3 separate regions of the Homo sapiens genome follow, and all the other regions are linked to region 1. Evidence: fine-mapped expression QTL. A gene starts in region 1. Each other region holds a variant in brackets. All regions are shown on one strand. Distances are between the middles of the regions. Region 1 holds the start of NMNAT3 (nicotinamide nucleotide adenylyltransferase 3). Region 2 has its middle 120 kb from the start of CLSTN2. Region 3 has its middle 37 kb from the start of NMNAT3.

What was found. PIP is the estimated chance that this variant, and not a neighbour inherited with it, causes the effect.
Region 2: its variant is the best candidate, but not a certain one, in a credible set for the expression of NMNAT3 in NK cells (Gilchrist 2021, PIP 0.53).
Region 3: its variant is the best candidate, but not a certain one, in a credible set for the expression of NMNAT3 in subcutaneous fat (GTEx, PIP 0.88).

The regions. Positions count from the first base shown.
Region 1 is chr3:139,676,311-139,680,551 of GRCh38, reverse strand. NMNAT3 (nicotinamide nucleotide adenylyltransferase 3) reads left to right here and starts at 2,580. Exons shown (of 7, transcript NM_001401600.1): 1 at 2,580-2,847. RefSeq lists a silencer at 2,477-2,526.
Region 2 is chr3:139,811,001-139,815,241 of GRCh38, reverse strand. No RefSeq gene overlaps it. Among named protein-coding and RNA genes, the nearest start is that of CLSTN2, 120 kb to the left of the region's middle. The variant CT/T (reference allele first, on the strand shown) is at 1,965.
Region 3 is chr3:139,712,784-139,717,024 of GRCh38, reverse strand. No RefSeq gene overlaps it. Among named protein-coding and RNA genes, the nearest start is that of NMNAT3, 37 kb to the right of the region's middle. The variant C/T (reference allele first, on the strand shown) is at 2,245.

The DNA of each region.
Region 1 (4,241 bases):
GCATGCTCTTCACACAGTTTTCTAGGGTTTTCCCCTAGGATTAAGCCCTAAACATCTATTATAGTAGCTGGCTTAATCTTTTATTGAGCTCCCCTTTTCTTCCCTGTATTGCTTCTTCATTACTCTGCTGGTGTTCCATGTACCTCTCAAATAACTACTTGCATTAATTCTTACCTCAGGATCTGGTTCTGAGGCACTCAAGCTGAGACATCCTCTATGTAAAATCTTCCTCCTTCCTGAGGTGGCATTAGGTGGCCACCTTCCTTGAGCCATAATGGCAGATAGGATCCAGGAGAAATGAAACTTACCAATAAAGGAGAGATCTGAAAATATTATTCCCATTATACCCATAATCCAGTAGTCTTTTTGTGAGCTTAAGCAAATACAAGACTTGCATTTAGGTATTCCTCCTTCTAAAAAATTAGGAGGTAGTTGCCTCTCCAAAATGGATTTCTCAGCCATTGCGTCTTCACCGCTTAGGTTAGGTAAAGCTTGGCTATTATATGAGGTTCTTACCTTCCAGCACAAGGGGACGCTACTTTTTTAAAAAAATATTTTTATTTCCATAGGTTATTAGGGAACTGGTGGTATTTGGTTACATGAGTAAGTTCCTTAGAGGAGATTTGTAAGATTTTGGTATACCCATCACCCGAGCAGTATACACTGAACCCAATTTGTAGTCTTTTATCTCTCACTCCCTTCCCATTCTTCCCCTCTGAGTCCCCAAAGTCCACTGTGTCATTCTTATGTCTTTGCATCCTCATAGCATAGCTCCCACTTATGAGAATATACCATGTTTGGTTTTCCATTCCCGAGTTACTTCACTTAGAATAACACTCTCCAATCTCATCCAGTTGCTGTGAATGCCATTAATTCATTCCTTTTTTCTTGCCTAGGAAACCAGGCTTCCTCCTAGACCAAGCTTTAGTCTTCACTACCTCAGGCAGAGAAAGCTTCCCTTGCATGAGGAAGTCATTGCCCAGCCTCTTCTCTGCTCTCTGTGTGCAGCTTCTCCCTCCCTGGCCTAGGGCCCTGACCCAGAATGACTCTTCAGCCCACGATTTTAATCGAAGGCCTCTAATCAACCTGTGGTACTACATGCTACACAAGATTCTCAGAAATCCCTAAGCTTTCTCATGAGCCTCCCACCCTGCTGGGAAATAAGCTGACTTATCAATTAAAGAATATCCAAAGATGTTAAGCCACTTAATCCTCCCCAAAACTCAGTGCGGTAGGGGTTGTTACCTCCCATTATACGAAAGGAAAGTGAGGCTTGGGAAGTAAAGAGACTTGTCCAAGATCACCTTCTGGAGCCACATTTTACACCACAGGTAAGAGAAAAGGGATCCGAGAGGGCACGGACACTGTGTCTTCAGACTGAGTGGGGAAGTACCATTTACCTGGGTACTTATTGGGTGCAAGTTGCATGCCCCCGGTGCTAATACACAAGGGACAAATTTATGGGCCTCCTAAAACTGTGGACAGTGCACCCGTCCAGCCAACTTCATGGGTGCACCGTGAGGCTCTGGTGATGTGGACAGGCTTATAAAACACTCTCCATACTAAGATGAGGTTGTGTTCCTGTGTCTAGGAAACGCTGGAAATTAAGTGTACAGCAATCAAAAAACCTTGACATCATCCTTGATGTCTCTCTTTTTCGCACACTCCAATTCACTCCATTAGGAAACTGTATTGGCAGAATCTAGTGAATCTTGTCCTTCAAGGCCTCTCTCTGCAAGGCTCCCATGAGCCCTGGGGGCTTATGGAGAGTTCTGGGTGGGCAGAGGAAGCCAGACTGCGTTAGGGAAGCAAATTTGGGACCTAAATTTCCTAAGAAGGTTTTAGGGGATAGGGACCCCAATCTCTAAGACCCCAGGATTCTGTTAAGATTTATTTTCTCATTCCAAATAAATGTTCACTGGCAAGCCCTAATTCTGTCTTCTCTTTCTTAAGCAGCCCTCCCTTCCTTCTCCCCACACAACTGTGTATGCTTCAGGCCCCAGAAATCCTTCCCTGCTTTGAGGTCTGGCGTTTACCAGGGCAGGGCTTGAGAATAGAGGTGTAAATTTGTCAGAAGGAAACAGGGGCCGCGCAGTAAGAGAGTAGATCCTCATATAACATGGCAGAAAGTCAATGGATAAATCAAGAAATCGCTATGTAAGTTTCTTTTTTTATTTTTTTATTTTATTTATTTATTTTTTTTTTGCGACAAGCGGGTGACCACTAGAAGAAATTAACGGAGGAATTGTTAAAAAGAGCTGTGATGGGAGGGAGAAGTGGCCTGTTGCTTTCATTATAAGCAAATCTAGATAATTTTATTTTCTAATAAGTAAGTGGGCGTTACTTTCATGTATTTTTTTAAAAGAAAATTAAATAAAAATACAAAACAAACAGAATACAAAACAGGAGAATAAAAAAGCAAACACGCACGCAACACAAAAGAGCCTTGGCGGTTGGGAGCCAGCGGGCGGGGGCGGGGGCAGGGGAGAGGGCGGGGCTTAGGACCCTGGGCGGGGCCAGGGCCGGGTCTCCTTAGGGCCCGCCCCAGCGAAGGGGCGGGGCGCAGATCTGTTTCCCTCAGACTCCATCTGCCCGGGGCCGCTAAGGGAGCGCAAGGTCAAGTTCGCCTTGGCCCCGCCTCCAGCTCAGGTACTAGGGGATCTAGACCTGAGGCTGCCCGGGCCGGAGGCAGCCTTGAGTCCCGAGACCAAACGTCGTTTCCCTCTCGGACCTCGGGCGCCGGGCCGCGCGCTGACCGACAGCCCCTGCTAGGCCCAGCAGGTCCCCTAGTCCCCCGCAGTCCCCCGAGACTCGCCGAGCGCCGTTGCTGAGCCCTGCAAATAGCAGGTAAGCGCAGCGTGGGCCCCTCGTCAGCCCACTAGGACCTGGATCGCGGCTGAATGCCCGGGCCCACGTGACTCCTGGCCCCTAACTGAGTCCTGGGAGTCCCCGCTGGGGCGACAGGTGGCGGCGGAGTGCGGAGCCATCCGGGGTGGCGCGAACCGGGGGGACAGCTCCGCGCTGCCTCTGCGCGCCGGCGGTTCTCGCTGCAGCGTGTCAACCTAACCCCCAGCTCCCCTTTGGCTATGACCAGAGTCCCGGAGACGTGGGTTCGGATCCCACCTTTAGCACTCGTGCACTCAAAGGTTAAAAATATAAGCACAGTGTCTAACAAATACTTAACGTGTTCCACTCAGTGTCCGCTGCTGGGCTAAGTGCTGGGGTTACAGTAGCAGGCCAAAAAATGTGGTGCCCTCCCCCGTGCAGCTCACAGTCCAGTGGGGGGAGACCGACAGCAAATGGATATCTATGCAAACAAGTGTGAACGTTAAAACTGTGGTCAGAGCTATGAAGATTGAAATTCTAGGGTGCTGGAGAGATTTTATCAGGGCCCCCAGCTACAAAGGCTGCTGGAACTAAAACTTTAGAGAATTCCCGGGCGGGGAACAACAGAGCAAACTCATTTTGTTGGGAGAGAATGTGGCTTGAGGAAAGGAGGGTTGGTGGGGCTGGCCTGCAGAGAGCTGGGGGGAAAGCAAGTTCCTTAACCTTAACGTTCTCCTCTGTAAAATGGGATTGTTCTACCCATTGAGAATGGAAATGGTGAATGTAAATGACTTAGCACTGCGTGATGGGTGCTGGATGTTACTCTGCACTAAACATCCAAGGCTTGATGTTGTTCTGGACTAAACACAGTGTGCCTGCCTCTCAGCAAAGTCACTTCCCCTCTCCTTGAGTCCTGTTTCTTCCTCTATCAAATAAGTGGTTCTGAGTAGAATCTCTCAAACAGCCTGTTCTCTAAAATGATGACTGGTTTAGTTGTTCATTCTTGAAACATTTAACTGGCGCCCACTTTACCCTGGCTCTGAGGATTCAGAGAGAAATCAGACAGGGGCCCTGCCCTCCTGGAGCCCATGTCCGGTGGGCCAGGTGAAATAAAGTGACAGTTCCACCCTGGCACAACCCAGAGAAAGGGTTCTTACCCACTGGCCTTGCAGGGGAAAGCTTCTCTGTTTTTCTCAGAAAGCCACCCAGGAGCCCCTGAAGGTATGGTTCACACAGCTCCACTGAGCATCAGTTACTTCTTGAATTTCATTGGTGGTTCTCAGCTTTTGGTGTCACCTCTTAAAACTGGACAGAAGACTTCCCAGAAGCAGCAACTATGCTGGGACCTTGCTAAGGACGTGTCAGACCTTGAGACCCCATGGATTTGGGAGAGCATTTTAGGTTTCAGGAAACAT
Region 2 (4,241 bases), 130 kb before region 1:
GACTACTTCAATAAATGACATTGCCCTTGAACCCATTGTATTTCCCTTGGGAAGGGCACAATGCAGAGTGGGAAGATGCTTGGCTTTAGGTCAGGAAAAAGTGGACTCAAATTCCATCTCTATCAATTATATCTGTCATATTGAGTTTCTTCAATTCTATGCTTTTCTTTAAATTGAGGAACATCAGTCCCTGTTTTTCTACTCACAGGATAGTAATGACGGAGGAAACAATCTGAATATTAAAAAACATAGGTTTTGCGCTGCAATTCTCAGGACTCTACAAATGAAGACCCTGGGGTTTAAAAAAAAAAGAGGAAAAAAGCCTCTCACGTGTCTAAAGCCTGAAATGTTAAGACGTCACTGTTAGAATATCTTTCTAACCTCATCGTCTCGGTCCATGCTGTAAATTCCCTGAGAGGCAGCTTTTTAAACTATTGCCAGCCAGTGAACCCTGAAAGGGAAGAAATTCTCTGAGAACAGGCTTGAATGAGCAAGCTGAGCATAAAATATTCATCAGAGGACAAGCTCAAGGCCAAAGAGGCTAGGAAAACTAAAGACCACCGCTGCCATCTTCCAAGGATTGCAGCAGTCAACTCTCCAGTCTTTGTAAAGAATGCTGGTCATTTGCTTGTTGGCTGTCCACTCCATGCCCTTTTGCAGCTCTACTCTGTATGGTAAAAAACCATACTTCTCAGGCTCTCTTGCCAATGTGCTCCTGGGTGGACTCAGCTAGTGGGAGACACAAGTGGAAGGCTGGAGGGTGGGAAGAATGAAGAGAGCAGGGTATTTCTTCTTGTCATGCGTTACTTCAGTGGTATCTCAGTAGGGAATAGTAGCAATGGTTACTTTTCTCCTGTGATTCTAGCTCTGGAGAAACAGATCCTTTCCTTATTGCCCCACCTCCCACTGGACAGGCCCCACCATGTTTCTCAAGCCAGCTTGATGGCCCTGGCCTCTGAGCTCTCCTCCTATTGTTGCTCCAGCACTAAAATGATAGCAGTTTCCTGTTGTTGCTAATCTCTGGAATTCCTCACTGTCCCACAGTTTGGCTTCTCAGCTCTTCCATTATCTGTATAACAAATGCCCTATGTTAAATTTCTCTACTTGAAAGATCTAGAATCACTTCTATTTTCCTGATTGATAGGGAATCTCTTGAATAAAACATTAAATACTTGTACGAATATTAAGGCTAACATATGGCACCTATATGTGCCAAGGATTGTGCTAAGAGCTTTAGATCATTTCATTTTATTTATCTAATCAACCTCATGAGTTAGGCATATTATTACCCTGATATTACAGATGACAGGAACTGAAGCTTACATTCAAAGTTGAAATCTTTTCTTTCACAGAAAATATTTTTTATCTGGGAGGAGGCTGATTCTGAAAGATGAGAGAACTAAGTCAACCCTCAAAACCCTGTACCCTACAACTTCACTGGAACTGTCAAAGGTGTTTAAACCAGAGCCACTCCATCTTGAATAAGGGCTGGGTAAAACAAGGCTGAGACCTACTGGGCTGTATTGCTAGGTGGTTAGCATTCTAAGTAAGTCACAGGATGAGATAGGAGGTCGGCACAAGATACAGGTCATAAAGACCTTGCGGATAAAATAGGATGCAGTAAAGAACCCAGCCAAATCCCACCAAAACCAAGATGGTGACAGAAGAGTGACCACCGGTCATCCTCACTGCTACACTCCCACCAGCCCCATGACGCTTTACAAATGCCATGGCAATGTCAGGAAGCCACCCTATATAGGGGAGGCATTAATAATCCACCTGTTGTTTAGCATATAATCAAGAAATAACCATAAAACTGGGCAACCACTCTGCCTATGGAGTAGCCATTCTTTTATTCCTTTACTTCCTTAATAAACTTGCTTTCGTTTTATTCTATGGACTCAGCCTGAATTCTTTCTTGTGTGAGATCCAAGAACGCTCCCTTGGGGTCTAAATTGGGACCC[CT/T]TTCCAGTAATAGAGCCTCTATACACGGTTGTAGGCACTGCCTAGCCATTCCATCAGCTGAAGTGAACACATTGGTTCTGGCTGGTGACCCCCCTCACTAGTTCTTCTTTGAGCAGAAAAGCACAATCATGATCTGCAGATGGTCATCTGTCTTCCTCTATTGAACATCTGTGTGGTGGCTTTGATGAAGAGAACTAGGGGTGGCCACCTCAGCCATTTCACAATCACAGAATCTTTTATCGCCAGAGCCTTTGCTGGACATTAGGGTGGTTGAGACTTCCATTCTGAATCTTGTCTTTCTTTGATCATTTTGCAGAGAAAACACAAGGTGTTATTTAGGCTGCACAGAAAAGCCTGCAAATTGCTCCTCTCTGTCCTAATGCTTCTCTAAAACATGACTTTCCTCATTACCCCCTACACTCTCCTGATCACTTCCACAACTGCTGCCTACTCTCTTAATATTCTTCCAAAGTAACTACATTGAAAACCCATAAAGGCTGATTTCTGTGGAGACTTCCATCTGCCTCAGCTCTCACCTTCCAACTTAAGGAAGGCAATTAATTGTTTCCTTATGTATTCCTATATGCTTCTTTCCCCTATCACATCTTGAGATCAAGAGTTCTTGGACTCAACACACAAAAATTTATCGATTCTTTTCCTAATTTGCATGCCTGTCCCCTTCCAGAGAGCCCCATGCCTCATTTCCCTTCAGTGGCTTAAACATTAGAGATGAGAGAGACAGAAATATTCACAAAGATGAGTTTTGCCTACATTCTGGAATTTTTGTTCTATTTTTCTGGGGGAGAGAGGTACTCAGCATGTTCTGCCACTTGGTTTCATAACAAGAGCCTAAGCAATCAAAAGTTTATCTCTAGTTGAGAGCAGAAAACTCCCTTTTCCTATTACCTTTGGCCAGTGATGTGGGTTCTAGTTTATTATTAGGCTTCTTGTAAACTAGAAGCCACTCATATCTGCAGATAAGAGAATACATCTGGTGATAGACAGCTTTTACAGCTCTTCCCTTATTGCACTCTAGCCACTTTTAGAAGACAGCAAGCAGAGCAATTTGAAAAATATAAGCAATTACTTTAAACTAATATAAGTTCTTATTATGTCAAGGTATCTGTTTTGTAAAGGAAGACACTTGGAGGTAAAAAAATCAGAAATGTGAGGCTGTCTATTCAACTATCAACCAATCAATCAGTCTCTAAGCACAGTTTAAGCATTTACTCCATGCTGGGTAAAGAATAATCAGGGAGGGGGCAGGAAGTGGCTGACTCAGCCTGTGTACTCTCTGGATTTACTGCAAAATTTAGGAGACATGGTTCCTAAAGACCCACACCTTGATCCTAAAATGTGCTCCCCTCAGATTTGTCATGGGTGCAGTCAGGCTGTGCCCAACAAGGGCATGTTTACATGAGAGGCCTAGGAAGTCTCCTAGGAAACAATCCATCTAAAGAAAAGGGAAATTCAAAGCACACAAGTTTAGTTTCAGGACAGAGTGACAGTTTGGTACCTGGGGAGGAGGGGGTTGGTAATTCCGAGCCTAGCCCTTGTTCCATAGTCTAGTGGAGAAAACTTCTGAATGAGAAAACACATTCAGAAGCCTAGGCAAAGGAGACTGCAAAAACAAACAAACAAAGCAAGATGTAAATTAATGGAAGAGTTCTACACTGTTTATCTGTACTCTTTGGTTGCAAGTAACCAACACTAACTGAGGCTGGATTAAACAGGAAATGAAAATTTATTTTAAGGATGTGAGTTGGCTTTCAATACCCACAGACAAGAATGTAGCTGGAGACCACAAAGATCTAAACCAGGAATGGAAACAATCAGGAGCATGAAAGTACTGTTCCTCCATCTCTCTTCTCTGCCTCTCTCAGTGCATGGGAGACACTGTTTCTCAGAAAACTGAGCTCAAATTGTCTCTTATTTGGCCAGTGGGAGATTATTTAAGTTTCCTTCTGAATACTTTTAACACCACCCTGACTGACTCCTTGATTTCTGGTGTATCAAGATGTTTCAGGCTTACCTGGAATATTCTTTGACCCAGACATAGAGCCAGACATTTCCCCCAAAGAGTTCTGACTCCTTTTGGTTGGAAGTGATGTTTGGAGACCGCAATCTGAGTTCTAGGTGTGCTCATTGCTATTTGGTTGGTCATTGTTTCTAGATCTTTTCCAGGAAGAAAACTAGGAAATATGGTTTTAAAATATTTTATTCTTATCCAACTTTTTTTCCTGGTTAACTATGGCATTACACTTGGCTGCCTAAGG
Region 3 (4,241 bases), 36 kb before region 1:
GTCTCCACTCCATGCAACCCTCTAAATCTCAAGAAACCATCTCTCCATGCAAGGGATAAGCATGACACTATTATGGGGATAACAAGAAAGTTACCCCAATTTGTTCAGAAAGTGAATCTCTCACACAAATAACAATTTTTAGAAACAAATTGTGTTGAAGAGCAGGCAGCTAGGAACTCATTGGCCATGTTCTTCCAGAGTACCTCCACCACACACATCACCACACCTGACCTGCCCATCACTGCTCTGCCCTGTCTCATGCAACATGCTGTGGGTTGCTGGGAGAATAGGGTGGGCTTTAGGCTCAGGGTTGAGGTTGTACAGCCTTCAGGTAGGACAGGAGCTAGCTAGCAAGAGGAGGCAAAAAGAGAACCCTTGGGTAGAAGATCCCTCTGAGGGAGGAACTGCTACCTAAGAGGTGGGGCATGGACATAAAGGGGGTTGAACAGCATAGAGAATAACTGATTGACAGGGCTGCCATCAAGGAGCAGTTGCCAACATCCATTCTGAAGCTTTCAGGTTGTTAATATGGCTATGCTCAGGAGAAAGAAGGCTGAGTAGTCAAAAACGTTTGGGAAAAGCTTGATCAAAATTATATGGGTTCCTTTCAGCCAGACTTCTAAGAGCCTTTAATGTGTAAATGATGAGGATTATAGTTTTGGGTATGTATGCAACCTGTTAGATCTTACAGTCTCTCTCTCTCTCTCTCTCTCTCTCTCTCTCTGTCTCTTCCAGAGCATCTCAAAGGGTTAATGAGCTGCACCATTCTATTGTCAACTGGGTCAAGTTGAAAGCTCAGAATCTCCTTTTCTCTATGGCTCCAAGTTCAAGTTGGCTAAAAGCAGAACTTTCACAAGACTTGGGAAGTGGAAGTGAAGCAGTAACTGTTTCTCCCTAAACGTCTTTGAAGTCAGAAATGTAACAGAAAGACAGAGAGGTGCCTGATGGGTTTCAACTTGTTCTCATCCCGTTTCTAGCTCTAATCACCAACAGTGGTTCCACACCCACTACCAGATGCCTGGTTACCACAGAAATAGCAGCTGCAGAGATTCAACAGCTTCCCACATACCTTTCCATGAATCCCACCTCACATTTCCACTTCAACATTTGGACCTGCCTGACTTCTCAGATTCTCCCTGCAAGTTCCAACTTGCCCATCCATGTCAGGGCTTGAGGAGGATGGATGGTGACTATGATTCTCCAAATTCCCCTTTAAACTGCATTAGTTTGCTAGGGCTTACACCACAAAGTACCACAGATCAGTTAGCTTAAACAGAAGAAATTGATTTTCTCATGATCTGGAGCCTAGAAGTTCATGATCAAAGTATCAGTAGCATTAGTTTCTTCAGAGGCCTCTTATCTTGGCTTCTAGATGGCTGTATTCTCTTTGTCTTTACGTGGTCTTTCCTCTGTGTGTGTCTGTGTCCTAATTTCTTCTTATAAAGACACCAGTCAGATTAGGGCCCATCTTAGTGATTTATTTTACCTTAATTACCTCTTTAAAGACCCTGTCTCCAAATACAGTCAGATTCTGAGGTACTGGGGTTAGAACTTCAACATATGAATTCAAGGAGGGACCACAATTCAGCCCATAACATGAATCTTCACTTCCCAAATTTTTTTTCGCAATTGTGTAAAGTCTAATTCTTATAGTAAATCCCTTTTCCCGTGACATACACAGTGGCTCCACCTATCTGACTGAACCCAAATACAGAAGTGGTACTAGGATTGGACTGCTGCTGTAAAAGAAAATCAAAACTAGTTATATTGGCCTTGGGACTAGATGGTGGGCAGTGGCTGAAAAAGTAGTGAGGTCAAGTGATGCCCCAAATGCAACCTGCCTCCAGCTTGCAAAGAGGCAGTAGAGGGCTCTGGCTGGGAGTGGGTTGGAGTGCCTCAGGGACAGGGATACAGGTGGACTACCCCAAAATAAACCTCCTTTCAGCCATGGCTTACTGTGCTGATGGCTAAACCCAGAACGTGAAGAGACAGTCCTTCTCAAGGACACCTGGCCTGGTCTAGCCACCAAGCTGACCACGAGACAGGAGCCTCCAGCAACAGGGAAATAGCTATCTTCTCCAGATGACCAGACACATAGGTGAGGCAATTAGCGAACCACTTAAGTCTATCTATAATTAACTATCTATATGTGTGCCACAAACAATGCATGTCCTTCTTCTCCCCTACATTATGCTCCAGCCAAACCAAACCACTTATAGCTTCCTGAAATGTCAGGCTATTTCA[C/T]GCCTCGGGGCCTTTGTTCAACTGCTCCCTCCCACTCGGAAGCCCTGCCAGCATAGCTGCCTAGCAAACATCTATTCATCTTTCAAGCACCACCTTTACTCTGCAGCTTTTTCTTTTGACATCCAGCTAGCTATCATTTATTAAGCATTTGCCATGTTTCAGGAAATATGCAAGCTACTTCATTTGATCCTCTTGACAGCTCTATGACATAGATACTCTTAGCCCTTTTTACAGATGAGAAAACAGGTTCCGAAAAGTTAAGTTATTTGCTCATAGTCATCCATCTATAGGTGGGACAATTGGGCTTCAAACTCAGACCATTGTGATGAAAGCCTGGCTCTACACATCCTCGTATACTTAATAAGATTGGTCCTCTGAAGCTAGGTTTGAGCCAGAGACTGAGGTGCTTTGGGGTTTCTACCAGCATCCTGATAAGTTTTATAGCAGTCTGGAGGTCAGCAACCCCATCTGAAAACAATTCTTTTCAAGCAAGGCACCCACCAATGTCTGGATCTCTCTGGAACCGCTTGAACAGGACACAGAAATGCCAGTCTGCATCAGGAGGGGCTCCCTCTGCCACAAGGCAGCTCCTGCTTGTCAGAAGTTCTCAGAATACCCCAGACACCTTATAGTGACTCCTGACTTCTCCAGAAGACAGTCATTCTTCCTACAGCAGAAGTGAGAAGTAGGACAAGACGTAGGTTCAAATCTTGCCACCACACTCTCTGCTCCTAGCCCCTCAAGTTGGGAATCAAGAGGCAAGCATCTAGTTTGTTTTGTTTGTTTGTTTTTTAATTTTTTTATTTCCATAGGTTTTTGGGGAACAGATAGTATTTGGTTACATGAGTAAGTTCTTTAGTGGTGATTTGTGAGATTTTGGTACCAAGGCCATGTTTCCCAGCCTTCATTTTCCAAAACACAATTAGGTCCTTGCCAAGTCGTGCTAGCTGTATCTTCCAGTCACTTGTTCATAAAGTCACCCATCTGAACTCTAAGTTGACCCTATTTCCTGTATACATGTCACATGTGCATATGTGGGTAGGGAGTAGGTGTGTGAGTGTGTGTTTTTGTGTGTAGGCATATAATGAAAAGTTTGAGACCAGCCTGGGCAACACAGGGAGATTCCATCTTAACAAAAAAAAAAAAAATTTAATTAAAAAATTAAAAAAAAATTTTTTTTAATTAGCCAAGTAGGGTGGCATGTGCCTGTAGTCCCAGCTACTCTGGAGGCTGAGGCAGGAGGATTGCTTGAGCCCAGGAGGTTGAGGCTGCAGTGAGCCATGATCGTGCCACTGCACTCCAGACTTGGTGACAAAGTAAGACCTTGTCTCAAAAATAATAAGATAAAATGAAATCCCATAATTCCATACACACAAGTGTTCTCCAAGCCTCCTATCACCCTTCAAGGCCTAACTTGACTCAACTCCCCAGCAAGGCTATCCCTACCTCTCTCTGGTCAGAGCTAACCCTCTTCTCCTCCATGTGTCCACCATGTCTCGCTCATATCTCTAGCTGGGTATCGATCATGCTCTGTTGTTATGTGTCTCCCCCACCCCTAAGTAGAGTGAGCTCTGAAGAAAGAAGCCAAAGTATTAAAAACTTTCATCACTTCTACCCCATATCAAATTGGTGCCATTGGGCAGCACGTTTGCTGTATGGTCTGCCTTCTTTGAAAGTTCTTCTGCTTCCCATGGCTCATTTTCACAAAGCCATATTTGCATTATTTAAGATTTCAAGGTTGTAGGTGCCCATTTTTCTTATGGGAACAAGTGACTAATGAAAACTTGAAATAAATCAAATTCCTTGCTCAGCGCAGTGTTGGCTACTTGGCACTCAATATATAAGTGTTGAATGAATGAATGATGTTTAATCATTCAAATTCACCCAAAGATATTTTTAATCTCAGAATTCCGCTTTACCCTAAAAAGAAAAAAACAGAGACTTGGACAAAGTTTATGGTCTAGTGAATATGGAAACATAGCTCTCTAGAGACAAGA